Homo sapiens: one gene and its partners. The protein of the gene in region 2 purifies or fractionates together with the protein of the main gene of each other region. This does not show direct contact. Each region holds a gene or a part of one and is shown on either strand. Other genes may lie near its edges. The genes, in order: CLGN, FOXRED2, MIPEP and OS9.

Evidence for each region.
Region 1: the proteins of FOXRED2 (region 2) and CLGN purify together in Homo sapiens (co-immunoprecipitation; 2 studies listed by BioGRID and IntAct, with this or other methods). This does not show direct contact.
Region 3: the proteins of FOXRED2 (region 2) and MIPEP purify together in Homo sapiens (affinity purification with mass spectrometry; 2 studies listed by BioGRID and IntAct, with this or other methods). This does not show direct contact.
Region 4: the proteins of FOXRED2 (region 2) and OS9 purify together in Homo sapiens (affinity purification with western blotting; 2 studies listed by BioGRID and IntAct, with this or other methods). This does not show direct contact.

What each region holds. Positions count from the first base shown.
Region 1 is NC_000004.12:140,396,563-140,403,744, forward strand, and holds part of CLGN (calmegin precursor), read right to left. Parts: intron 5,505-7,182; coding exon 5,423-5,504; intron 3,988-5,422; coding exon 3,795-3,987; intron 2,479-3,794; coding exon 2,289-2,478; intron 1-2,288. UniProt on the Homo sapiens protein: Functions during spermatogenesis as a chaperone for a range of client proteins that are important for sperm adhesion onto the egg zona pellucida and for subsequent penetration of the zona pellucida.
Region 2 is NC_000022.11:36,496,885-36,504,066, reverse strand, and holds part of FOXRED2 (FAD-dependent oxidoreductase domain-containing protein 2 isoform 1 precursor), read left to right. Parts: intron 1-2,659; coding exon 2,660-2,826; intron 2,827-5,910; coding exon 5,911-6,076; exon of another isoform or gene 6,077-6,212; intron 6,213-6,329; exon of another isoform or gene 6,330-6,509; intron 6,510-7,182.
Region 3 is NC_000013.11:23,729,615-23,732,508, reverse strand, and holds the end of MIPEP (mitochondrial intermediate peptidase), read left to right. Parts: intron 1-2,063; coding exon 2,064-2,161; 3' UTR 2,162-2,320; downstream 2,321-2,894. UniProt on the Homo sapiens protein: Cleaves proteins, imported into the mitochondrion, to their mature size.
Region 4 is NC_000012.12:57,710,983-57,718,164, reverse strand, and holds part of OS9 (protein OS-9 isoform 1 precursor), read right to left. Parts: intron 2,406-7,182; coding exon 2,195-2,405; intron 2,077-2,194; coding exon of another isoform or gene 2,074-2,076; coding exon 1,972-2,073; intron 1,754-1,971; coding exon 1,653-1,753; intron 1,473-1,652; coding exon 1,421-1,472; intron 296-1,420; coding exon 207-295; intron 20-206; coding exon 1-19. UniProt on the Homo sapiens protein: Lectin component of the HRD1 complex, which functions in endoplasmic reticulum (ER) quality control and ER-associated degradation (ERAD).

The DNA of each region.
Region 1 (7,182 bases), on a different chromosome or scaffold from region 2:
ATTTTTTTCTTGAGGTGGAGTCTTGTTCTTGTTTCCCAGGCTGGAGTGCAATAGTGCGACCTCAGCTCACTGCAACCTCTGCCTTCCGGGTTCAAGCAATTCTCCTGCCTCAGCCTCCAGAGTAGCTGGGATTACAGGCACCTGCCACCACGCCTGGCTAAGTTTTTGTATTTTTAGTAGAGATGGGGTTTCACTATGTTGGCCAGGTTGGTCTTGAACTCCTAACGTCAGGTGATCCACCCACCTCAGCCCCCCAAAGTGCTGGGATTACAGGCATGAGCCACCATGCCTGGCTGGAGCATATATATATACATATATATATATATATGTATATATATATATATGTATATATATATATATACACATATATATATATACACATAGCTTCATTCTTAACAGTTGCATAGTTTTCTACTTGAGGATACACCATAATTTATTTAGCTTATCTCCTCTTGGAGGACATTTAGTGTTTCCAAAATTTTACTATTATTAATACAAACAATGCCATAGTGAATGTCCTAGAATATATGCCATTTCTCATCTGTGAAAATATAATTGTTAAGAGTATGGACATTTTAAATTTTGATAGTAGCATCCAAATTACTCTCTATAATGGTTACACTCCACTTCCGGTTCTACCAGCAGCATGCAAAAGTACCTATTTTCTCCTGTCCTTGCGAAGAGTGTTACCAAACTTCTTGATTTCTGCCCATGTGGTAGGTGAAAAATGGTATCTCACTGAACTTTGAATGTACATTTAGTAGCATAAGTGATACACAAAAACTATTTTTTCTTAGCTCATTACCTTTATACTAAGAAATTAGCTCTCTGTCAGCTATATGATTGAAAATAATTTTTCCTGGTTCTTGTGTGTTTTTTGAAATAGTTTAGGGAGGTTTTTTTTTTTGCAATATACAAATCATTTATTTTCATGTAGTTGAACTTATTTTTAAAGGATTCTTGGATTTTATGTCATATTTGGAAAGTTCTTCCCTATTCCAATATAATTTTTAAAACTCTCCTTATTTAATTCTAGCATTCTTATTTTAAAAAGAACACTTAGGCTGGCGTGGTGGCTCAAGCCTGTAGTCTCAGCACTTTGGGAGGCTGAGGCGGGAGGATCACGAGATCGGGAGTTCGAGACCAGCCTGACCAACATGGTGAAATCCCATCTCTACTAAAAATACAAAAATTAGCCGGGCGTGGTGGCGCTTGCCTGTAATCCCACCTACTCATGAGGCTGAGGCAGGAGAATCCCTTGAACCCAGGAGGCAGAGGCTGCAGTGAACTGAGATCACGCCATTGCATTCTAACCTGGGTGACAGAGCGAGATTCCATCTCAAACAAAAACAAAAACAAAAACAAAACACTTAGTAAATTCTGAAGTATATAAACATAAAGTACTGAACTACTAATACAATTTTCATCATTACAGAAAGATAGAAATTTTAAACAAGAGGACACTTCATGATTTTCCAAATGAGTTACAAAATAAACAGAAATAATCAACTTTACAAATGTATAGATTTGTGCTTGCCTGATACCAATGTCATCTTGAGTTTCTGAGTGCTCAGAGTAACCAAAAGTTAAAATTTAATGGAGCATTTCTTTTAGTACTTTGTAAAACAAATTCTAACACATTTCAACAATCAGAATGAAGCAGTTATATGTGGTTTCTCTCATTTAAGGGCAAACATACTCTTTTTTTTTTTTTTTTTTTTTTTTGAGACAGAATCTTGCTCTGTCACCAGGCTGGAGTGCAGTGGCACGACCTTGGGCTCACTGCAGCCTCTGCCTCCTGGGTTCAAGCAATTCTCCTGCCTCAGCCTCCCGAGTAGCTGGGATTACAGGCACCCGCCGCCATGCCCGCTAATTTTTGTGTTTTTAGTAGAGACGGGGTTTCGCCATGTTGGCCAAGCTGGTTTCGAACTCCTGACCTCAGGTGATCTGCCCACCTCGGACTCTCACACACATACAATAAAGATCAAACTAGGAATGAAAATTAAAGCACTGGTATTTTGGATTTATGAAATTTTTAATCCACAGCATTGAAAACATAAAAAATAAATATATATTAAAAAATGCAACATAATTATCAATAGAAATAAAAAAAAATTACAGGGAGGGAAGTGTAAAATCCATTTTAGAAAATATTTCACCCAAAATACTAAAAATAAGTAGTTCTGATGTTTAAAAAAATAAACTTCATGGGTTGTAAACTTCACTTATATGTTGTTTCATTACCTAGTTATGCCAGATAATGCTTTGCTACCGAATTATTTGCTTACCAGTCTTCTGGTTTGACGGCAGAAGGATCAGGAATTTTTGCTCTTTCATCCCATTCCTCAGGTTTTTTATCATTGGGATCTTCAATTTCTTTGGGAGGTTTGATAGGAGGAACCACATCCTCTAGGAGGCTTCCTTTGTTTACAACTGTTTGATCAACTAACACCTCAAATGTGTCATCTGGATTCATCACTAAGGGACCAATTTAAATAAATTATAGTTATCATTTTGATATACGCTTTAAAGATAATCTTCTAAATAATGTAACTACCCTTAACTCCATGGGTAAAGCTTTTTTCCCAACCAGAAATAGAGGAATAACCAATGTATTGAACTAAAACATTCTAAAATCACTAGATACATTTCCTAAAGATAAAATTTTGTTTTAAACTGCATTTTTTACAATAAAATGCTCCATTACTTCTCAAATAAAAAATAATACCAAATAGCTCTGTTTTGGGACTCATAACGAGTCAGCTTCACTCTTTTATAGTTACAAAATACAAGCTAATCTTTTTCAGCATTTAATTTTTTTGATACCATCTTAAAGTGTTGTAAGTATAACAAAAAATTAATTTATTCTGTTCTAGTAATATTTTCTCATTATTTCTACAGTTTACTTGGTGTTCCCCCAAATGCCTAGTTTTTTCAATTATTTCATAAAGATATTTATTATATCACATCTGATATTGAAGATGAAATGGGCATTGCCCGAGCAGACAAAATGAATGTTTCTACCACTGCAGCATTTGGGGAAAAAGATTGAAATACTTTAATCTTGGGTGGAGTTGAGACGTGAGAAAGGAAGCCAATAGGGCCATTTCAAAATGTCCTATTAGGTTCCAATATGCTCTGATTTTGATAGTGGGCTGACCAGAGCTCTACAGCCATTATACTTGAGAATGGGAGAAACAACTGCTTATGATGTCCCTCACCCCCATATCTATGCAAATTCCTATTTACTTAAGTATATTAATATATGGCTGCTCAATGCTTCTCCTTTCGAAGTACATGCCACAACCAACACAAGGTAGGACATAACAATAATCACAACTGCCTACAGAATAAAGTCTAAACTTTTTAGTCTGGCATTAAGGGCCTCTTCCTTTTTATTTTTTAGTTTTCTGTTCTGGCCTCTTCCTTTTTATTTTCTAGTTTTCTGTTCTTACAGCACCACTGTCACAACGTCTAAAATGTCCTTTCACCCTACTGTCTTCAACATTCTATCTGTACTTCAAGACGAGTTCAAATATAATCTTTCCTAGCTTTGTTCCAAGTCTCTAAGCTGGAAGTAATATTGCTTGTGAACTCTTAGCTGTGCCTCATCTCTCTTTCTTATATGGTACTTTATTTTCTACCCGTGCTGTCATTATACATGTCCTATTTTCTGAAAAAGATAAGCTCCTTCAGGATGGGGTACACATTTGTTTTCTTGTAAAGCACTTGCCATGAATACATCAATAGTCAGCAAATATTTTTGAATACATGAATGAATTAAAAGGGTATACCAAGGGTATAAAGATGAGTCTTCCTGTCTGTAAAGAACTTTTTAAGGTCTACATCTGGAGGTTTGGCATGTTTCTCTTCGAAAACTCCAGTTTTGGGATGTTTATGTCTGAAGATAAAATGAAGTTTATAATCTTCTCCACATTTATCTGGTCCAAACATAATGATATAGGATGTTTTATCATAAAAGTTTTCCTTCAAAGAGAGATGAGTGTTGGCATTAGTCCAGAATCACAGACTATTTAATGCATTTCTGTATTTTATCCAATGGGTAGAGTTTACAAAAATATATTAAATGGTAATTCACCAGAGAGCTAGCTATTTAATACAAGTGACAATAAAGGACATGGGAAAATGACAAATTTTACTTCAATATAGATTTTTTTAAGTACACACTACTTCCTGACGATGTGGGACAGAAGCTGAAAATACTCTAGCAACACCATAATATGCTTTAACTCTCTATGTAAATCTATATTACTAATATTTTTATTGAGAGAATTAGGCATTAGAGGAAAGCATATTTATGGCCTTAAGACTAAAATTATCACCCATTACTATTACTTAGGAAGATACCAGAAAATGACCCTCTGAGCACAAGATGAAGAGAGATTCATTCAGACATAAAAACAGACACGAGGACATGAATTTCTCTTTATTTGGCATGGCATAGTGGTTAACAGCATGGGGCATGGAGTCAGATACTGGGGTTCAAATCCTACCACTGCCTCTTAAACTAGTTGGGTGTCACCCTGACTCAAATTTTTTAAAGCTCTCTGCACCTCCATTTCATCACCTCTGAAGTATGGAGATGATAATAGTACCTACCTTATAAGAGTTCTCTAAGGATTAAGTGAATTAATCAGATAAAGTGCTTATAGAAATACTTGGCATTAGATTTTTTTGTCATCCTACCTTCAAGTGTTCATCTAAAACAAGAGCTTCAACATATACTCCAATGGCCTCTCCTTCACTTGATCCTAATAATAATGAGTAGTACATGAAAAAGTCTCCCATCTACATTTCATAGCTTATGTACAGCTAAGTGTTCTGAAAAATATACCCCTGATGTCTCATCTATCGTATTTCTGTTATATGCAGAAAGTCTGAAACAGCCTTTTACAGGAGAAGGCTATAAGAAATATCCCCAACTTTCCAATGGTCCTAATACAACCTCTTAGAAGTATAAACCTATTTCATCATGAAAAGTTTTTAAAATTAGTTACTTTCTGTGGGTTGCTAACCCCTTTTAATTTGGTTCTTCGGCCATTTTGTTTCACTGCTATGCTTTGTTATGCTTCTCTAAACAAACTTAAGAGTCTTATTCTGTAAAGAAAATAACTCTAAGCTATATTTCAAAAGAAATTTATAAGTATCACGTAGTTTTTGTCCTACAGACATGGTAAACTTTTTCATGTTGTTAAAGATTATAAAATTGATGCCTTCAAGTAACACAGCTTTATATAAAACTTGAAGGCGAATTGTAAGAGCTATGTAAATTCACATTGAAAAAAGATATCTACAATTCTTTTCAATTTCAGTTGAAGACAAAATATTCAGTTTTATCATTTGTTCCTTAAAAATACTTATTAACTTTAATAAGGTTTTCTTAAATATTAAAATATCATACCAGAATCAAATCATCAGTGTCTGCTAGGAGTTTAATGTATGCACCTCCACAATCAATACCATCTTGAAAATTTACTTCATATCTGAATAAAGGGAAAAAGAACCGTACTACTGATAAATAAAATTTACTAGTTGCTCTTTAAAATATAATCTTATTATTCTCAATTCATGTAAGTATAAATTTTTTTACATTATCAGAAAACTCATATAAAGCATATCTACAACCTATAGGAAATAAGCAGAAACGCTTTTCTACTACTCTAAAACAAGACACATCATTAAAATATTAAAAATAGAATGATTACAATCAACTGCAGACAAACCAATCAATTTGTTTAAATTTTTTTCCATCAAAACTGATAAATTAAGCATAAGATACTGTAACTAAAACTACAACAGGAAATTTCAAATTCTGATAAGGTAAGCACTATACTTACACTTTATAAACTAAAAAAAAATAAAGGCCGTAAGAACCACAGCTACAGCAAGATTTCTACGAAATTGCTAATGATCTTAGATACCTAGAGTTCATTACACCTTACCATGTTAAATAAGTTGTACATTTAATTAAATAGCTCCAGCAAAGAGATTCATAATCTCAGTCAATAAGCTGGATTTCAGACCTAAACAGCCAGGAGATATGGGAAATTTTCACTGTTTAGTATAACAGCTAAAAGAATGAACATGAGAGTCTCTTATGAATTTACAACACAGTGTAATTCTCAGCAAAGTTTTTTTTTCTTTATTGGTAACTTTAAAAGGAAATAGCCTTGCTATGGCAATGAGGCATAGACTTACGAGATTTTTTGTTGTTAAATTAACGAATTATATGTGACAAAAATCAACAAGGAAATGGCTGTCAAACAGTAAAAACAAAAAAGGTTATGATTTCATTAAATGAATTAAATCAAAAAGACATGAAAACTAGAGAAATAACCAGAAATAATGATCATTTTAATAAAGGACTATAGTTGTAAATGTTTCTGAAGAAATTTAGTGACAAGAAGGTAAAACATGATAGTATACAAAATTTTAACAGTTTGAACTCAATTGGTGTACATATTTTGTATTAAAAAAAAGGAAACAAAATTTTAAGTATCTCTGATTTGAAAGGGGTGATTTTCTCCTATACTTTTTACCATGCTTTATTTCTTAAGCTATCTACAACAGTGGCCACAAGCATGTACTTTAAAGTCAAAATGACCTGAGAGTTATTCTTGATTCTGCCACTTACTCTAGTGACTCCTTGGGTAACGGCAAGTCATTTAAGCTCTAAGTCTCTATTTGCTCATCTATAATATGCAGACATGGCCCATACTTACACCTCAAAGGATTGTTATGATGATTAAAGGATATCATGCCCAATGAGGGGCAAATACATGCTCAAAATGCTTCTATGATAATCAGAAGGAAGGTATTCTTTCGTTCTTTTTCATTTTTTAAATAGAGGACAGTTTGTTTTCCTCAAAGTCTTATCTTTATTTTAAGCAATAGCTGACAAAATTTTGTTTTTCATGGAATTTAAGTATTTGAAGACTATAAGTAGAACACGTGGTGCATGATATGACTTAAAGGTCACTGTTTTTAGAAAAAAAATTAAAAAGATTTTGCTTTATAATAGATTATCTCAGGACAGAGCATTCTGTAAAAAGGTAAGAATTGGAAAAAACAATTTTGTACAGTGGCTGCATAAATGTGAACACAGTTTCATTGTTCCATTATGCCTAGATTCAATCACCTTGTCCATTTCTTATACTGCAA
Region 2 (7,182 bases):
CTAGCAAACCCTCCTGACCCCTCCCTAGGGGAACAGGGTGGCTGTTCAGTAGGCTGGCGACAGAGCTCTCAGGACAGCACCCAAAGAATGGATGTGAGTGCTGCCTGATTTCCCTCCAGGACATGAGCTCTGACCATTGAGGGTCCCAGGTGGCCCTGAGGCCCTTGGTCCTGGAGCAACACCAGCAGATCTTCATCAGCATTGGGAGCCTCCACCTGTGAGTTGGAAAGGCCGGCTCAGAGAGAATACAGAGGGGAATTTGCTCGAAGGCAATATAGCGTAGTGGCTGAGAGCACAGGTGCCGGAATTGTCCTGAGATTCTCTGCTTGCCAAATCTGTGACCTCGGCGGAAGTTATTTAACCACGCTGTGGCCCAGTATTCTCATGTCTAAAATGGGATTCAAAGTTTGTTTCTCATATGGTTATTGCGAGGATTAACATAAGAATATGCTTGGAGGCTGGGTGCGGTGGCTCACACCTGTAATCCCAGCACTTAGGGAGGCCGAGACAGGTGGATCACTTGAGGTTAGGAGTTCGAGACCAGCCTGGCCAACATGGTGAAACCCCATCTCTACTAAAAATACAAAAATTTAACCAAGCGTGGTGGTGGGTGCCTGTAATCCCAGCTACTCAGGAGGCTGAGGTGGGAGAATTGCTGGAACCTGGGAAGCAGAAGTTGCAGTGAGCCGAGATCACACCACTGCACTCCAGCCTGGGTGACGAGACTCTTATCTCAAAAAAAAAAAAAAAGAAAGAAGAATGTGTGCAGAGGCCAGGTGCAGTGGCTCATGGTCTCACACCTATAATCCCAGCACTTTGGGAGGCCAAGGCAGGCATACTACTTCAGCTCAGGAGTTCAAGACTAGCCTGGACAACATGGTGAAACCCCACCTCTACAAAAAATACAAAAATTAGCCAGGTGTGTTGGCACATGCCTGTGGTCCCAGCTACTCAGGAGGCCAAGGTGGGAGGACTACTTGAGCCCAGGAGGTCGAGGCTGTGGTGAACTAAGATCATGCCTCTGCATTCCAGCCTGGGCAACAGAGTGAGACCCTGTCTCAAAAAAAAAAAGAGATGGCTGGTCACAGTAGCTCATGCTGTAATCCCAGCACTTTGGGAGGCTGAGGTGGGCGGATCACAAGGTTAGGAGTTCAAGACCAGCCTGACCAATGTAGCGAAACCCCGTCTCTACCAAAAATACAAAAAATTAGCCAGGCATGGTGGCACGTGCCGGTAATCCCAGCTACTCGGGAGGCTGAGGCAAGAGAATCGCCTGAACCTGGGAGGTGGAGGTTGCAGTGAGCCGAGATCGCGCCATTGTGGACTCCAGCCCAGGCGACAGTGCAAGATCTCCATCTCAAAAACAAAAAAAGAGAGAGGAGAGAAGGAAGGAGAGAGAGGGGAGAAAGAAAGGAAAGAAAGTGCTGGGAGCTAGGTGCAGTGATGAGTACCTAGCTACTCAGGAGGCTGAGGCAGGAGGATCACTGGAGCCCAGGAGGTCAAGGCTACAGTGTGCTATGATCATGCCTGTGAATAGCTGCTGCACTCCAACCTGGGCAACATAATGAGACCCTATCTCTTAAAATAAAGAAAGTACTTGGCATGTATTATGTGCTCAATAAAATGTTAGTTGCTTAAGTTATTTATCATTGTATTTTGAAGGGCTATTTTATGAAGCCTAGATTTTAAACATTGCTGCCGACTACCTCGGGAGGTTTGGTATCAAAGCAGCATCCAGTCTTTCACTTGTCTTCTGACCAGGGTGCAGAAAGACAAAGGAGAAGCTGGTGTGCCTGTCCAGACCCTCCTTTCCATCGGCCTCCCAAAGTGCTAGGATTACAGGCGTGAGCCACTGTGCCTGGCCTGACTTCATTGTTTGTTTGTTTGTTTGTTTGTTTGAGACAGAGTCTTACTCTGTTGCCCAGGCTGGAGTGCAATGGCATAATCTCGGCTCACTGCAACCTCTGCCTCCTAGGTTCAAGCGATTCTCCTGCCTCAGTCTCCTGAGTAGCTGAGATTACAGCCATTGCACCACCACCCCCAGCTAACTCTTTTTGTATTTTTTCATAGCGACAGGGTTTCACTGTGTTGGCCAGGCTGGTCTCGAACTCCTGACCTTGTGACTCGCCCGCCTCGGCCTACCAAAGTGCTGGGATTACAGGCGTGAGCCACCTCGCCTGGCCGACTTCATCTCTTAAATGGAGATGATAATACCCACCTCCTGGGGTCATGGTGAGGTTTAAATGAGACGAGAAATCTAAGGCACTCAGTGCCAGTAATAAGTGCCACTGTAATAAGTGCCTCCTGGCTGGGTGCAGTGGCTCGCGCTTGTAATCCCAGCACTTTGGGAGGCCAAGGCAGACAGATCACCTAAGGTCAGGACATCGAGACCAGGCTGGCTAACGTGGTGAAACCTGGTCTCTACTAAAAATACAAAAATTAGCTGGGCATGGTGGCAGGAGCCTATAATCCCAGCTACTCGGGAGGCTCAGGCAGGATAATAGTTTGAACCCAGGAGGCAGAGGTTGCAGTGAGCCGAGATCACGCCATTGTACTCTAACCTGGGCGACAAGAGCGAAACTCCATCTCAAAACTAACTAAATAAATAAGTGCCTCTTACATAGCAGCTATTTTCATGAACAGCCCTTTCCACTGACAGGTCCCTCAGACTTAACTCGGGAAATGCATTCGGCAAGAAGTACCCGCTGATTCGAGCTAGCTACGAATCCAAAGGAAGCCGGGGTCTGTTTATCCTGGGTACTGCCAGCCACTCGGTGGACTACCGGAAATCTGCTGGGGGCTTCATCCACGGATTCCGATACACAGGTGAGCCCAGCTGAGAAGGCAGAACTGTCCCCAGACGGAACCACTCTCAGCATCCCAGGGTTTATAAATCTACTCCTATGTCCAGAAGCATTAGGGGATTGCTTGTCAGTAGCTCATTGTCATAAATTGTCTTGGGGAAGTGACAACAGGTTTTTGTGGTCTGACGACATGTTTAGGAAAGTATCAGATAAAGTGTAAAAGTCCACGCCTGTAGTCCTAGCTACTTGGGAGGCTGAGGCAGGAGGATCCCTTGAGTCCAGGAAGTCAAGGTTGCAGTGAGCCATGATGATACCACTGCACTCCAGCCTGGGTGACAGAGCGAGACTTGGTCTCAAAAATAAAATAAAATTAAGTGTAGGCCAGGTGCAATGGCTCACGCCTGTAATCCTAGCACTTTGGGAGGCCAAGGCAGGTGGATTGCTTCAGGCCAGGAGTTCAAGACCAGCCTGGGCAACACGGCGAAACCCTGTCTCTACTAAAAATACAAAAATTAGCCAGGTGTGGTGGCGTGCGCCTGCAGTCCCAGCTACTCGGGAGGCTGAGGCAGGAGAATCACTTGAACCCAGGAGGTGGAGGTTGCGGTGAGCTGAGATCGCACCATTGCACTCCAGCCTGGGCAACAAGAGCAAAACTCCATCTCAAAAAAAAAAAAAAAAATGTAATTGGATTATATCAGTTCTTTTTCAAAACTCTCAGTACCAAGGGTATAAATTTTCTGCCAACTTGAGAATGTTTACAAAGAAAATACTAAAATATCTTTTAAAAACATAATTCTATTTATTGCACTAAAATAATCCCCAACCAAAAATTGATACTTGTGATTTTAGGAGTAAATGGGAAATAAAAAGGAAGTGAGAGAGATGAATTCACGCATGTTGGGTGACTTCAGTGGGCTGAGCACTGAACACACGACCCTGGCAGGGCCGCCAGCACCCCGAAAGGTGGGTGTGAAATCTCCATTTTCCTCAAGAGTGTAAAACTCTGAGGCTCAGAGTTTTGGTGATTTTCTCACCATTATGGGAATTAAACTCCAAGGCCCAGGAGCTTTCCTGAAAGACACTTTCTACAAAGGTCTTCTCTTCTTTCATAGAAAGCAAACTGGTGCCCTTTCTGTGGAGAGGAGTCTAAAATGTTAGATGTGGCCAGGCACGGTGGGTCACACCTGTCATCCCAGCACTTTGGTAGACTGAGGTGGGTGGATCACCTGAGGGCAGGAGTTCGAGACCAGCCTGGCCAGTATGGTGAAATCCCACCTCTACTTAAAATACAAAATTAGCCGGGCATGGTGGCGGGCGCCTGTAATCCCAACTACTCGGGATGCTGAGGCAAGAGAATCACTTGAACCTTGGAGGTGGAGGTTGCAGTGAGCCAAGCCCACACCATTGCACTCCAGCCTGGGCAAAAAGAGTGAAACTCTGTCTCAAAAATAAATAAATAAATAAAAATTAGATGTTCCTGCTCCTGTGGTTAACCTTCTGAGAAGGACAGGGTGTTGGTTGAAATTCACTCAGTGAGGCATACAGTATTCAGTTAGGTGGTTAGGTGAGTCTATTTGAAAGAATGGAGTCATAATCTTACAGCTGAGCTTTAAAAAATTAGTATTATTATTTTTTTTGAGACAGCGTCTCTTCCTGTTTCCCATGCTGGAGTACAATGGCGCCATCTCGGCTCACTGCAGCCTCGACTTCCCAGACTCAAGCCATCCTCCCACCTCAGCCTTCTGAGTGGCTGGGACTTCAGGCGTGCACCACCACACCCAGCTAATTTTGTTGTTTTTATTTTTGTGTGGTAGAGACAAGTTTTCGCCATGTTGCCCAGGCTGGTCTCAAACTCCCAAGCTCAAGCGATCCACCCACCTCAGCCTCCCAAAGTGTTGGGATTACAGGCATGAGCCACCATGCCTAGCCTGAGCATCAAAAATGTGAAAATGTAGGGAATTACGGGGAGTAATCTTTATATTCTGCCACTCAAAGACATTCAATATTTATATTTCTTTTTTCTTTTTAAAGACAGTAAGGCAGGCTGGGCGTAGTGGCTCATGCCTATAATCCCAGCATTTTGGGAGGCTGAGGCTGGCAGATCAGCTTAGGTCAGAAGTTCGAGACCAGCCTGACCAACATGGTGAAACCCCATCTCTACTAAAAATACAAAAATTAGCCAGGCTTGTAATCCCTACTACTTGGGAGGCTGAGGCAGGAGAATCACTTCAATCCAGGAAGCAGAGGTTGCAGTGAGCCAAGATCGTGCCACTGCGCTCCAGCCTGGGCATCAGAGTGAGACTCTGTCTCAAAAATCATAATACAAATGAAGACGGTAAGGTGGACTTTATTCCAGGTTAGAGGACTACAATAATAAGTGTAGGGACCACTGCAGAGGGGTCTTACAGTACGGGCAAAGGATTGGACTCAATTCTGGGAGTCGGTTCCTCCTGGAACCCAGGAGGCGGAGGTCGCGGTGAGCCGAGATCGCACCACTGCACTCCAGCCTGGGCAACAGAGCGAGACCCTGTCTCAAAAAAATAAAATAAAAAATATTTAAAAAAAGAACTTAGAGACAGATGGATTTAGGCTGTGAAAGAGAGGGCGAAATCAAAGATTTCTGTAGGCGCGTCTCTGATGGAAACAGAGCTGTGAAGGGGGGGAGGTTTCTGGGGAAGGCTCCGTGTTGGACTTGACGTTCCTTGTGTGAGGTGGGGCCGGTGGGACTCCCACGTGCAGATGGCCTGAAGCAGGGGCAGATGGACTCTGGCCTGGAGACCAACTCCAGCTGTGCTCACTCCTTTGCCTGTTGTCTTGGCCGCTTTTACACTAGGGGCAGAATTGAGCAGCATCACTGAGTCGTGTATGACCCACAAAGCAGAGAATATGGATTGTCTGGCCCTTTCCAGAAAATACCTGCTGGCCCTGCTCTAAAGGCAGCTGCCATCTCCTCCCCTCATGTGTTCACCACCTAGGCGTTTGCGCTGGGCCATGGAGACCAGTGTGTATGGCGTTCTCAGGGGTCAATGAGGCCTGGGCATCCCTCCCAGTGACCAGAGATAAAATGGTAAGTGCAGCGTGCCGTTCCTCCCTCTGGCTGTTCCAGTGCGTGCTGTTCACCGGCTCCTGGAGCACCGCCACCACAGCGTCACCTGGCCCGCCACTGAGCTCCCCATCACACAGCTGACCAGCTCCATCGTGCGGCGCGTGAATGAGGCTTCTGGGCTCTACCAGATGTTCGGTGTGCTGGCCGATGTCATCCTGTTGAAGGAGTGAGTAGCCCGTCCCCACCCTACTCCCCTCGGCCCAGCTTTCCCGACGTGCTGCATAGCGCTTCTCTTCCTATTCCAGGTGTGAGGTGCCCAGTTCTTTCCTAAGATGAAGGCTGCTGTGGGGAACATGCCTGTTCTGGGGAAAAACAATGACATTAACTCTACAGACAGTCCTGTGAGTGGCCACGGGCACATTAGTGAGCCTCTCTGAGCCCTTCTTCCTCATCTGCAAAATGGGGATAATTGTGCCTACCTTGCAGCAGTAAAGGAAGGAGTAAAGGTCACTTGTGGAAAGTGTTTGGCATCACGTGGATGAGCAGTAGTCAGAGGCAGCCACGTGGATCTCAGAGCTCCCTCAGGCCAGGGCCTTGCCGGCCACCATCGTCAGAGTCAATTTAGTGATAAGCAGCAGATCCCAGAGGATGGACAGTTCCTGAGAAGGAAACGGTGCAGAGCACAGAGGGGTGAGGGGCGGGGGGAGACAGGTGGCAGGGAGAAGCAAGGGAGCAACCTTCAGTCAGAGGGAACAGCCCGATCCAAAGGCAGGGCGTGCTATAGCACACCAAGTTCAGGGACATGCAGGTAGTGCAGCCGCTTTCTGCACAAAACCCTCGCATCACCCTCCATGCCCCTGCCCCTCTTTTTTTTTTCTTGAGACAGTCTCGCTCTGTCATCCAGGCTGGAGTGCAGTGGTGCGATCTCTGCTCGCTGCAACATCTGCCTCCTGGGTTCAAGCACTTCTCCTGCCTCAGCCTCCTAAGTAGCTGGGATTACAGGCACCCACCACCATGCCTGGCTAATTTTTTTTTTTGACTCAGAGTCTCACTATGTCTTGCCCAGGCTGGAGTGCAGTGGTGCGATCTTGGCTCACTGCAGCCCACCTCCCAGGTTCAAGCGATTCTCGTGTCTCAGCCTCCCGAGTAGCTGGGATTACAGGCCCATGCCACCACACCTGGCTAATTTTGTATTTTTAGTAGAGACTAGGTTTCACCATGTTGGCTAGGCTGGTCTCAAACTCCTGACCTCAGGTGATCCACCCGCCTTGGTCTCCCAAAGTGCTGAGATTACAGGCGTGAGTCAGCACGCCTGGCACCCCTGTCTCAACA
Region 3 (2,894 bases), on a different chromosome or scaffold from region 2:
TTGTTTCAAGCTTGGGGTTGTACAAGTTGTTTCTTTGTTGACATATGCTTTCATTTCTCTTGGATAAATACCTGGGAGTGAAATTGCTGGGTCCTAGTGTAGGTCTATGTTTAGTTTCGTAAGACACTGGTTAAGACCTTTTTTCAAAGTGATTGTATCATTTTATCCTTTCACCACAAATGTATGACAATTCAGGTTGCACACAGCCTTGTCAACATTTGGTGTAGCACAGTGGCTCACGCCTGTAATCCCAGCACTTTGAGAGGCCAAGGCAGGAGGATCGCTTGAGCCCAGAAGTTCAAGACCAGCCTGGGCAACATGACAAGACCCCATCTCTACAAGAAGTTTAAAAACTAGCTGGGCATGGTGGCACACACCTGTGGTTCCAGCTACTCTCAAGCTGAGACGGGAGGATCACTTCAGCCTGGGAAGTCGAGGCTGCAGTGAGCCATGTTCACACCACTGCACATGCTGTGTTGTCCAGGCCTGGACAACAGAGCAAGACCTTGTCTTTAAAAAAAAAAAAAAAAAAAAAAAAAATTAGCTATTCTGGTGGATGTGTAATAGTATCTCATTGTGGGTTTGGTTTTCATTTCCCTAGTGACTAATGATGTTGAATGTCTTCTCAGTGCCTATTAGTTGTGTTACTTATTCAGATATCTTCTGTGAAAAACCTGACCTTGTGAAGGTAAAATCTTTTGTCAATTTGTAATTTAAAAAAACATATTTTTACAATGGGTCAAAGGAGTTCTTTATATTTTCTGGATACCAGTCTTACGTGAGATATGTTTTGTGAGTATTTTTTCCAACTATCATTTGTCTACTCATTGGCTTAATGGTTTCTTTTCAAGAGACATTTTAAATTTTGATGAAATCTAACATTTTTTCCTTTTATGCATTGCTTTCTGTGTCCTAAGAAACTATACCTACTTCAGGGTCACAAAGATACTTCATGCGGTTTTTTTAAGATAATAATTTTAGTGTTTACACTTAGGTCTGTGACCATCTCAAATTAGTTTTTATGTATGGTATGCAGTAGGAGTCAAGGCTAGTTTTCTGCCGTATGGATATGCAGTTCTGCCCAGCCGACTACTCTCACTCTTCATGTTGTGACTGAGCCTGCCCACCTGTATGCCCATGACCTGGCCTGATCCTTTACACACAACAGATGCTTCCTTCATGTTCACTGAATTGCAATACAGGTTCAGAGAACAATAGAGGATTCCTGCAATCTTTTAATGCCTTGATTTTGAAAATGGTTTTACAGAATTCATCTCCCAAAGTAAATATCAGTATATAGAGCCTGTTCAACCCTTCAGTTAGCATTTCCTGCCAAGAATGTAGGTTAAAGCAATAAGGTTAATTGCATCAATCTTTGTTTTTGGCTTCTTTAGAGTGAAGAAAGGACATGAATTCAGCTTTTTATTGAATTCTTAATATATGCTAGGCATGGTGCTTCATTGCTTCTACTACATCTTCTTGTTTGATCCTTATAGCAACCTTGTAGGAAATTTGGATGCCAGAGATTTTAAGTGACTTCTGCGTTACACAGTTACTAAGTTGCAAAGCTAGGAGTTCTCTGGGACAGGGAAATCTGGAGGAGAGCCAATAACTTGATTCTGATATAAGATTTCTATAAAAGAATTAACATCTAATTGATTGTAAAGTGTATAGAACTTGATAACAAAACTTGATATGTAATTAAACTTGTTAAATTGTGAATCATCCCAGTCAAAGATAACTAAAAAAAAATCAGTCTTCTAATATCAGTCTCTAAGGGTATAGTCATATATGCAAAAATAATAGCCCTTAGGAAATATATTTAGGCCTAAATCTCTAAGCTAAGGATGGATTTGATAGTAAAAATACATTAAAATTATAAATAGCTCCAAGGCCCACACACTGCCCATGACTTTATAAAATGTTCTTGCATTCAGGTTATACAGCCAGAGTCTTAATTCAGAAAGCCAGAGTGTTCCTCTAGTGTGTGGATTTGATTTTGTGTCTTTGTGCTTCCTGTTGCCTCCTGGTGAACGCAGTTCTGACCTTTCCTTTGTTTGCAGGTATGCTTCAGAAGTGTCCTTCTGTTGATGACTTCGTAAGTGCCCTCGTTTCCGACTTGGATCTGGACTTCGAAACTTTCCTCATGGATTCTGAATAAAAGAAACACTCTACACCTCTTAAATCAAGGTCATGTAGATAATGACTTTGTTATAAATGCTACAGCTGTGAGAGCTTGTTTCTGATTTCATTGTTCGCTTCTGTAATTCTGAAAAACTTTAAACTGGTAGAACTTGGAATAAATAATTTGTTTTAATTATTCTGGCTTTTCACCTGTTTGGCAAATATTTGAGCACATGGAAATCTCTGACCTAGTAACAACAACACTTCTACATGGCATTGTTAAATGGAGGGTATGGGCATTTCCTTAGTATAACCACTCTCCTGTTGAGCTTTTCCCTCTTTCCATGGATCTTTAATTGGTTTAATTAAATAATTAACTAAAAGCAAAATTGTTTAAGACAGAGTTTGAAGCAGTCTTCAGACAGGTTACACTTATAGTTCTTTTAAGAATGATGACCATTTCTTAAGACCACTATCTAAAGTAGGCTTAGAAAATGCACTTTAAATAGTCAATTACAGGCAACCAACAAACCAAGTGTGGTTTCCAAAATACATGTAATTATCTGTACTGTTTTTTCCTGAATGTTTAGGCAAATAGACTCAGAACACAGAGGACTGGCTTGGCAATGAAGGTAGAATGAGTAAGTGCAGGTACAATTAATAAGTGACATACCAGTGTCAAGCAACTGGTGAATCAGGAAACAGACCATGTCTGTTTTTATCTGGAACTCATTTGCTTTACAGTATTGCATACCATACTGTATTTTGGT
Region 4 (7,182 bases), on a different chromosome or scaffold from region 2:
GGCCTATATTTGGCTTCCCCTGGGTGGGTAGGGAGTGGGGAGAAAGACAGTTGGGGTTTCAACAGAGACACATGGTCGGGGGCAGACAAACAGTAGCAGGTGTGTGGTACTGGGGGACCCAGGAGTTGAGTCCCAGGTCAGGGTAGTTTTTCAAATGCTCGCAGTTGGGAGGTGGGTTCTACCCATTCCCTAAGCACGGCCTATACCTTTTTTGTTCCACCTTTCAGCTCCTCTATGAATCGAATCAAATCCGCAGGGCTTCGAATGACTTTGACCTGCACGTTGTTCTGAAAATCTGAGATGAAAGAATAATAATCATGAACCTGTTCTGTTGTGTTTAAATTCTTTTTTTTTTTTTTTTTTTTTTTTTTTGAGACAGAGTCTTGCACTGTCACCCAAGCTGGAGCACAGTGGTGCAATCTCTGCTCACTGCAACCTCTGCCTCCCGGGTTCAAGAGATTCTCCTGCCTCAGCCTCCCAAGTAGCTGGGATTACAGGCGCCTGCCACCACACCCAGCTAATTTTTGTATTTTTAGTAGAGATGGGGTTTCACCATGTTGGCCAGGTTTGTCTTGAACTCTTGACCTCAGGTGATCCACCTGCCTCAGCCTCCCAAAGTGCTGGGATTACAGGCATGAGCCACCACGCCCGGCTCTTTTTCTTTTTCAACATGGTGTGTTACTATGTTGCCCAAGATGATCTTGAACTCCTGGGCTCAAGCAATCTTCCTGCATCAGCCTTCCAAGTAACTAGGATTACAGGTGTGCGCTACTGCGCTCCTAAATTCTCTCTGGATTCCTAAGGACAGGTAATGAGAGACCAAGGAAGGACATGGTCCCTGCCTCTAGGATTTACCTGTTTGACAGTGAGACAAGGGCAAATATTCGCCTGCAGAGAGCACCATCCTAAGGTGGACACTCTGGTAGGAGAGATGGATGCTAACAAGCTGCTAAGTCCCCACTCTTCCATGCACTTCTGAGGCCCTTCTGGCAGTCACTCTAGCTTTTAGGACTACAGAGGAGATCCTGGGGCTAAGGGCTTGTCTTCCCTGGAACCCTTCTCCTCTTTCCACAAATATTAACCATTTAGTTTATTCAGTTCCAGGCCTTCTACTGTGAATTATGGATGCATTCTCATTTAATCCCATGCAACCCTCTAAGGTAGGGGTTATTACCCTCATTTTATGGGTAAGAAAATTGAGGTTAAGTGAATTACAAAGTCACCAAGTGGTGGAGCCACTGTGTTCTGCCACCTTGCTAAAATAGCAGTGCTGTCTACAAAGAGTATTAACTCCTATAAAAATGAATTTTCTGCCGGCCTGGCTACCCAACCTCCCTCCCAGGCTTAGCTCTCCCCTCCATCCCTACCCCTGCCAATCCTAAAATATATTCAGTAAAGGAGACATGGAAGGTTCACTCACCATTGGGAGCACCAGAAGCTGAATCTGCTGCCTCAGGGCTTGGGTCCTGCTCCTGACGAGGAGAAAAGGAGAGAGTCAAGTATGAAAGCCTGTTCATGCCCTCCATACTATGAAGGCAAAGGTTCTGGGGATATCCTTGCATCCCTAGGTAGATGTAGGTCACCTCACAATGGCCCCAGCTGCAGTGACCCTCCCCATCCCCATCCTGCTCCTCTGAGGCAGCTGGTCTCACCTCAGCCGGCACCTCCTCCCCTCCTGGGGCCTGGTCCTCTGGCTCATTAAGCATCTTCCAGAAATCTGAGTCCTTACTGTCATCCTTGGTCGGGCTCGCACCTAGGGTACAGAGAACAGGGAGAGACTGATCTGACAGGAGGGGTGAGACAGAAGGGAGCAAATAGGATGGGGTCCCTTCCCCTCCTCTATCACCAAGGGAGGAGGGCCCATGGTACTTTTCCACCCCCCCCCACCCCACCAGTCAGTCAGGACAGTAAGATCAGGGGAAGGGAAGAAATGGAAGTGAGTTTCACGGAACAGGTGAAACAAGGTCCTACCTGCCATCTTTTGGGGTGCCACCCCAGACTTGGTCTCACTCCACACTTGGGGGCCTAGATCTTGCAGCTCCTCTATGATTTTATCTCCATACTGCTTTGAGTCTACTGAGAAACAGCATGCAAGCAGGCCAGGAACACATTCCTCCAGCTATTCAATACTTGATCTTTTGCCACCCCCTGCCCCCGTATCTCCCCGTCTTCTCCTCCTTCTCTAATTACTCACCGGCTTGCCTCTGAACGTAGGCCATGTACTCCTCAGGCTGTAGGGAAGGGTGACAGAGGATGGCCTGCGGTGCAGCACTGGGTGGGGGCCGGAGGAGAGGGTGGGGGCAGAGCCGAGGAGTGCGAATGGTCAGCACATAAGAGCAGGACAAGGGCTCGTCCACGCGATCGATGTAGTCCCCAGAGATACCTGCACCCTCGTCACAGAGGAACTGCCAGGACAGAAAGGATGAATACACTTAATCACCAACAATAATTTGCTTTAGTTATTAGAGCAGGTGTCTTTTACTAAGCACTGATTATCTGTCAAGCATTGTGCATACACTGTGCATATGGCACTTTACATAAATTGGCTCACTTATCACAAAGACCCAGTGAGGCGATATTGGTTTCTCAACTTCGTGCCTCAAGAAACAGGTGTGGTGCAGTTAAGGCACTTGTTCAGGTTGACCAGCCTTTAAGTGGTAAAAACAGGAACTGAATTCAGGCAGCTTAACTGTAGGTAACCAATTTATGTTTCATATTCTTGTTTTGTATAAATATTGTGTGTGTGTATATATATACTTTTATTTGCTTCATATATGTATTATTATTATTATTATTATTTTTGAGATGGAGTCTCACTCTGTCATCCAGGCTGGAGTGCAATGGCATGATCTCAGCTCACTGCAACCTCCGCCTCCTGGGTTCAAGCGATTCTCCGGCCTCAGCCTCCCGAGGAGCTGGGATTACAGGCACCTGCCATCATGCCTGGCTAATTTTTGTATTTTTGTAGAGACAGGGTTTCACCATGTTAGCCCAGCTGGTCTTGAACTCCTGACCTCAGGTGATCCACCCACCTTGGCCTCCCAAAGTGCTGGGGTTACAGGCATGAGCCACAAGGCCTGGCCTGTATTTTTTTTAAAGTGTATATATATTTGTATATAAATATGTAATTTTTATATATGTGCATATGGTAAAAAACTTCAAACAATTCTAAGATTCTTATATCATTCAGAAAGAGGGTAAAGAGATTGATTGGCCTTTGATAAATTAAGCATGCAATATTCTAATTTCTAAAATAACTATTAAAAGTAAGAGAGGCTGGTGGTTCACACCTGTAATCCCAACACTTTGGGAGGCCAAGGCAGGAGGATGGCTTGATGCCAAAAATTCAAGACCAGCCTTGGCAACATAGTGAGACTCATCTCCACAAAAAATTTTTAAAAATTAGCGAGGTGTGGTGGTGTGCACCTGTAGTCTTAGCAACTTGGGAGACTGAGGCAGGAAGATCCCTTAAGCCCAGGAGTTCAAAGTTACAGTGAGCTATGATCATGCCACACTGCATTCCAACCCGTGTGGAAAGCAAGACCTTGTCTCAAAAACAAAAAGTGGGAGCGGTCCTACTTCTGAAATGGCAGCATGAGGGATTTCGCACACTCCACAGGGAAACTCCATTACTGATGAAAATTTAAAAACACAAAGCATGGCTGGGCGCGGTGGCTCACACCTGTAATCCCAGCACTTTGGGAGGCCGAGGCAGGTGGATCACCTGAGGTCAGGAATTCGAGACAAGCCTGACCAACATGGAGAAACCCCATCTCTACTAAAAATACAAAATTAGCCAGCCTTGTGGCACATGCCTGTAATCCCAGCTACTCGGGAGGCTGAGGCAGGAGAATTGCTTGAACCTGGGAGGCCAAGGTTGCGGTGAGCCGAGATCGCACCATTGCACTCCAGCCTGGGCAACAAGAGTGAAACTCTGTCTCAATACAAACAAACAAACAAACATAAAGCATTTAAACTCTTTGGAAATTTTCCTAAGGACATATAACAAATGAAGAAATGTTTACTCAAGAAAATCTACTAAATCTTTTTTTTTTTTTCAGACAGGGTCTCACTGTGTCACCCAGGCTGGAGTGCAGTGGCATGATCACAGCTCACTGAAGCCTCAACCTCCTAGGTCCAAGCAATCTTCCCACTTCAACCTCCCAAGGTAGGACTACAGGTGTGTGCCACCATATCCAACTAATTTTTACAAATTTTTTTGTAGAGACAGGGTCCCGCTATGTTGTCCAGGCTTTCCAGGGCTCAAGCAATCCTCCCACCCAAAGTGCTGGTATTACAGGTGTGAGCCACCATGCCCAGCTACTAAATCTTGAATAGTGAGAATTTGCAGCACTTGAACCATGACATGCTCCCTCAATCTATGCCCCAAACCCCTACCCCACAGCTCAGTTAGACTAAAGCTCCACTCCAGCAGGTAAGCGTAGTTAAAAAAAAAAAAAAAAAAAGTGGGGTGGGGCGGTGGAGGGGGAGGGACTTCCTATTCTCTCAACATCCAGTCATGAGATATGATATATGGTATTTTACCAGGAGGGCCACCAGCTCCAAGATACAGCAACTAAATTCCTGAAAAAGATCAAGGGCTCCCTTCCTCCACTCAGCCCCACCCACAGGGCAGAGGCTTTACCTCAAGTGCAGTGGGACAAAAGTATCGGGGCCCTGATTGCCCTCACGGAAGCTTGCTCAGAGAGTGGAGGTTTCACAAAAGGAGATGCAAACCGAGAGAGCAGAGGTTGTCATCCCTGCCTAGCTCCCTGCTCATAAAGCAGGAATGTCCTTCCAAGTGAAGCAAGCCATTATTCCTGACCCCAACTCCAGAGCAGGGCCTCGGGGATTTTGCCCAGGGGGAGAGGCAGTCCGTAAGAATACAGGGCTCCAAAACATTCTCCAAAGGACCTGACTTAATATGAAACAGAGTATGGGGAAATTCAAGCCTATAGGCACTTCAAAAATGTAGAGATTTTGGCAGGAGGCAATTAAAAGGAGGCTGATTGCTCCATGATAGCAACAGGCTAAACCTTGGGACAGCTAGTTTAACAGAGAGAACCAGGGAAAGGGCAACTGAGAGCCGTCCTGGACTCAGAACAAACCTATATATTGCCCTCAAAAACTAGCCCGACAAAGGGGCCCACAATTAACTGGACTAAACTATGGAACAACTTATGCCCCACATGTCAAAAACAATAAAGCAATTAGTTGGCAATGAATGGAGCCTAACAGCTGGGGGTGATACCAGCAGAGGCAGATGGCTTAACAAATTCATGAAAGAAACAGTCAAAAAGCCTGCTGAAACCACTGTCATCTAGTGTGGCTGTGTGCAGGGCCAAGACCGTGCACTCTGAGAAGAGACACTAGAGGCTTCATGTTGTGAGGGGGAGACTGAATGCAAGTAGTGCAGCCAAGTCACTGAACAAATGAACAAACAAAAGCCATGGGGTGGAGGGCAGGAATTTCTATCTGGAGTTACTACAACATACTATCTAAAATGTCTGATTTTCAACAATTATGAAACATGCAGAAACAGTAAAGTATGAAACATATATAGGAAAATATGCAGGCAACAGAAACCACCTGTGAGAGGGCCCAGATGTTGGATCTCACAAAGAGTTAAAAGTAGCCATTATATTAATAAATATATTCAAAGAATTAAGAATTTAAGTCACACAAAGTGTGTTCTCTGACCATAATGGAATAAAATTAGAAATGAATGAGGAAAAAAATTTGGAAATTCAGAAATATGTAGAAATTAAACAATATACTCATTAAGTAACCAGTGAGTTAAAGGAAAAAAATCAAAAGAAAACTATAAAATACCTCAAAAATGAACGAAAATGAAGACATAACATATCCAAACTTACAGGATGCAGCTGAAGTAGTGCTTAGAGGGAAATTCATAGCTATAAACATCAATTTTTTAAAAACAAAATCTTGACTCCATAATCTACCCTTCTATCTTAAGAAACTAGAAAAAGAAGAACACACTAAACCAAGAGCCAGCAGAGGGAAAGACTACAGACTAGGACAAAAATAAATGAAATAGAGAACAGGAATACCATCCTATGTGTCCAAAGACAGGGAACCACAGATACACCTTTGTAGGGAGTTTATATATGTTTTTAAGTTTCTGTAATAAAAAGTTTAAAAAAGACAATCTTTAAATATCCATAACTTGCACCTGGCAATTATGCTTTTTTTGCTTACTTTCTTTTTCTTCTTTTTTAATAGATGCAGGGTCTTGCTCTGTTGCCCAGGCTGGTCTCAAACTCCTGGGCTCAAGTGATCCTCTCTCCTCAGCCTCCCAAAGTGTTGGGAATATTGGCATTAGCCACTGTGCCCAGCCCAATTATATGTAAGATATATTTACACATGCATATATGTACAATGTAATAATCATTTGTGACAACAAAAGAATTGGGGGTGGAACTATTTCAACCAGTAGAATAATGGTGACAAAATGATGGAACACACAATGGAATTTTATGCAGCTATAAAAACAAAAAAGGGCCAGGCATGGTGGCTCATGCCTATAATCCCAGCACTTTGGGAGGCCAAGGAGGGCAGATCACGAGGTCAAGAGATCAAGGCCATCCTGGTCAACATGGTGAAACTCCATCTCTACTAACAATACAAAAATTAGCTGGGTGTGGTGGCGCACACCTGTAGTCCCAGCTACTCGGGAGGCTGAGGCAGGTGAATCCCTTGAACCCGGGAGGTGGAGGTTGCAGTGAGCAGAGATCGCGCCACTGCACTCCAGCCTGGGTAACAGAGCAAGACTCCGTCTCAAAAAAAAAAAAAAAAAAAAAAAAAAGATATACTGCCATTGAAAGATCTCTCTAAGGTTTATTGTCCAGGGAAATAAAAGCAAGGTATAGAACAGTGTGTTTAATTTACTATATATTGTTTATAAATAAAGGGGAAAGGAAATAAGAATCTCCATTCATAATTGTTTGTAATCACACAAAAAGGCTGGAAGGATACATGCAAAACTAAGACCAGGGTTAACCTGTGGGGCTGGAGCAGGGATGGCGGGGAGAGAATGGGAAATGAGCAGATGAGAGACAAGTATGGGAGGAAATATTTTTCTCTTTTTTTTTTTTTTTTTTTTTTTGAGACGGAGTCTTGCTCAGTCACCCAGGCTGGAGCATAGTGGTGTGATCTCGGCTC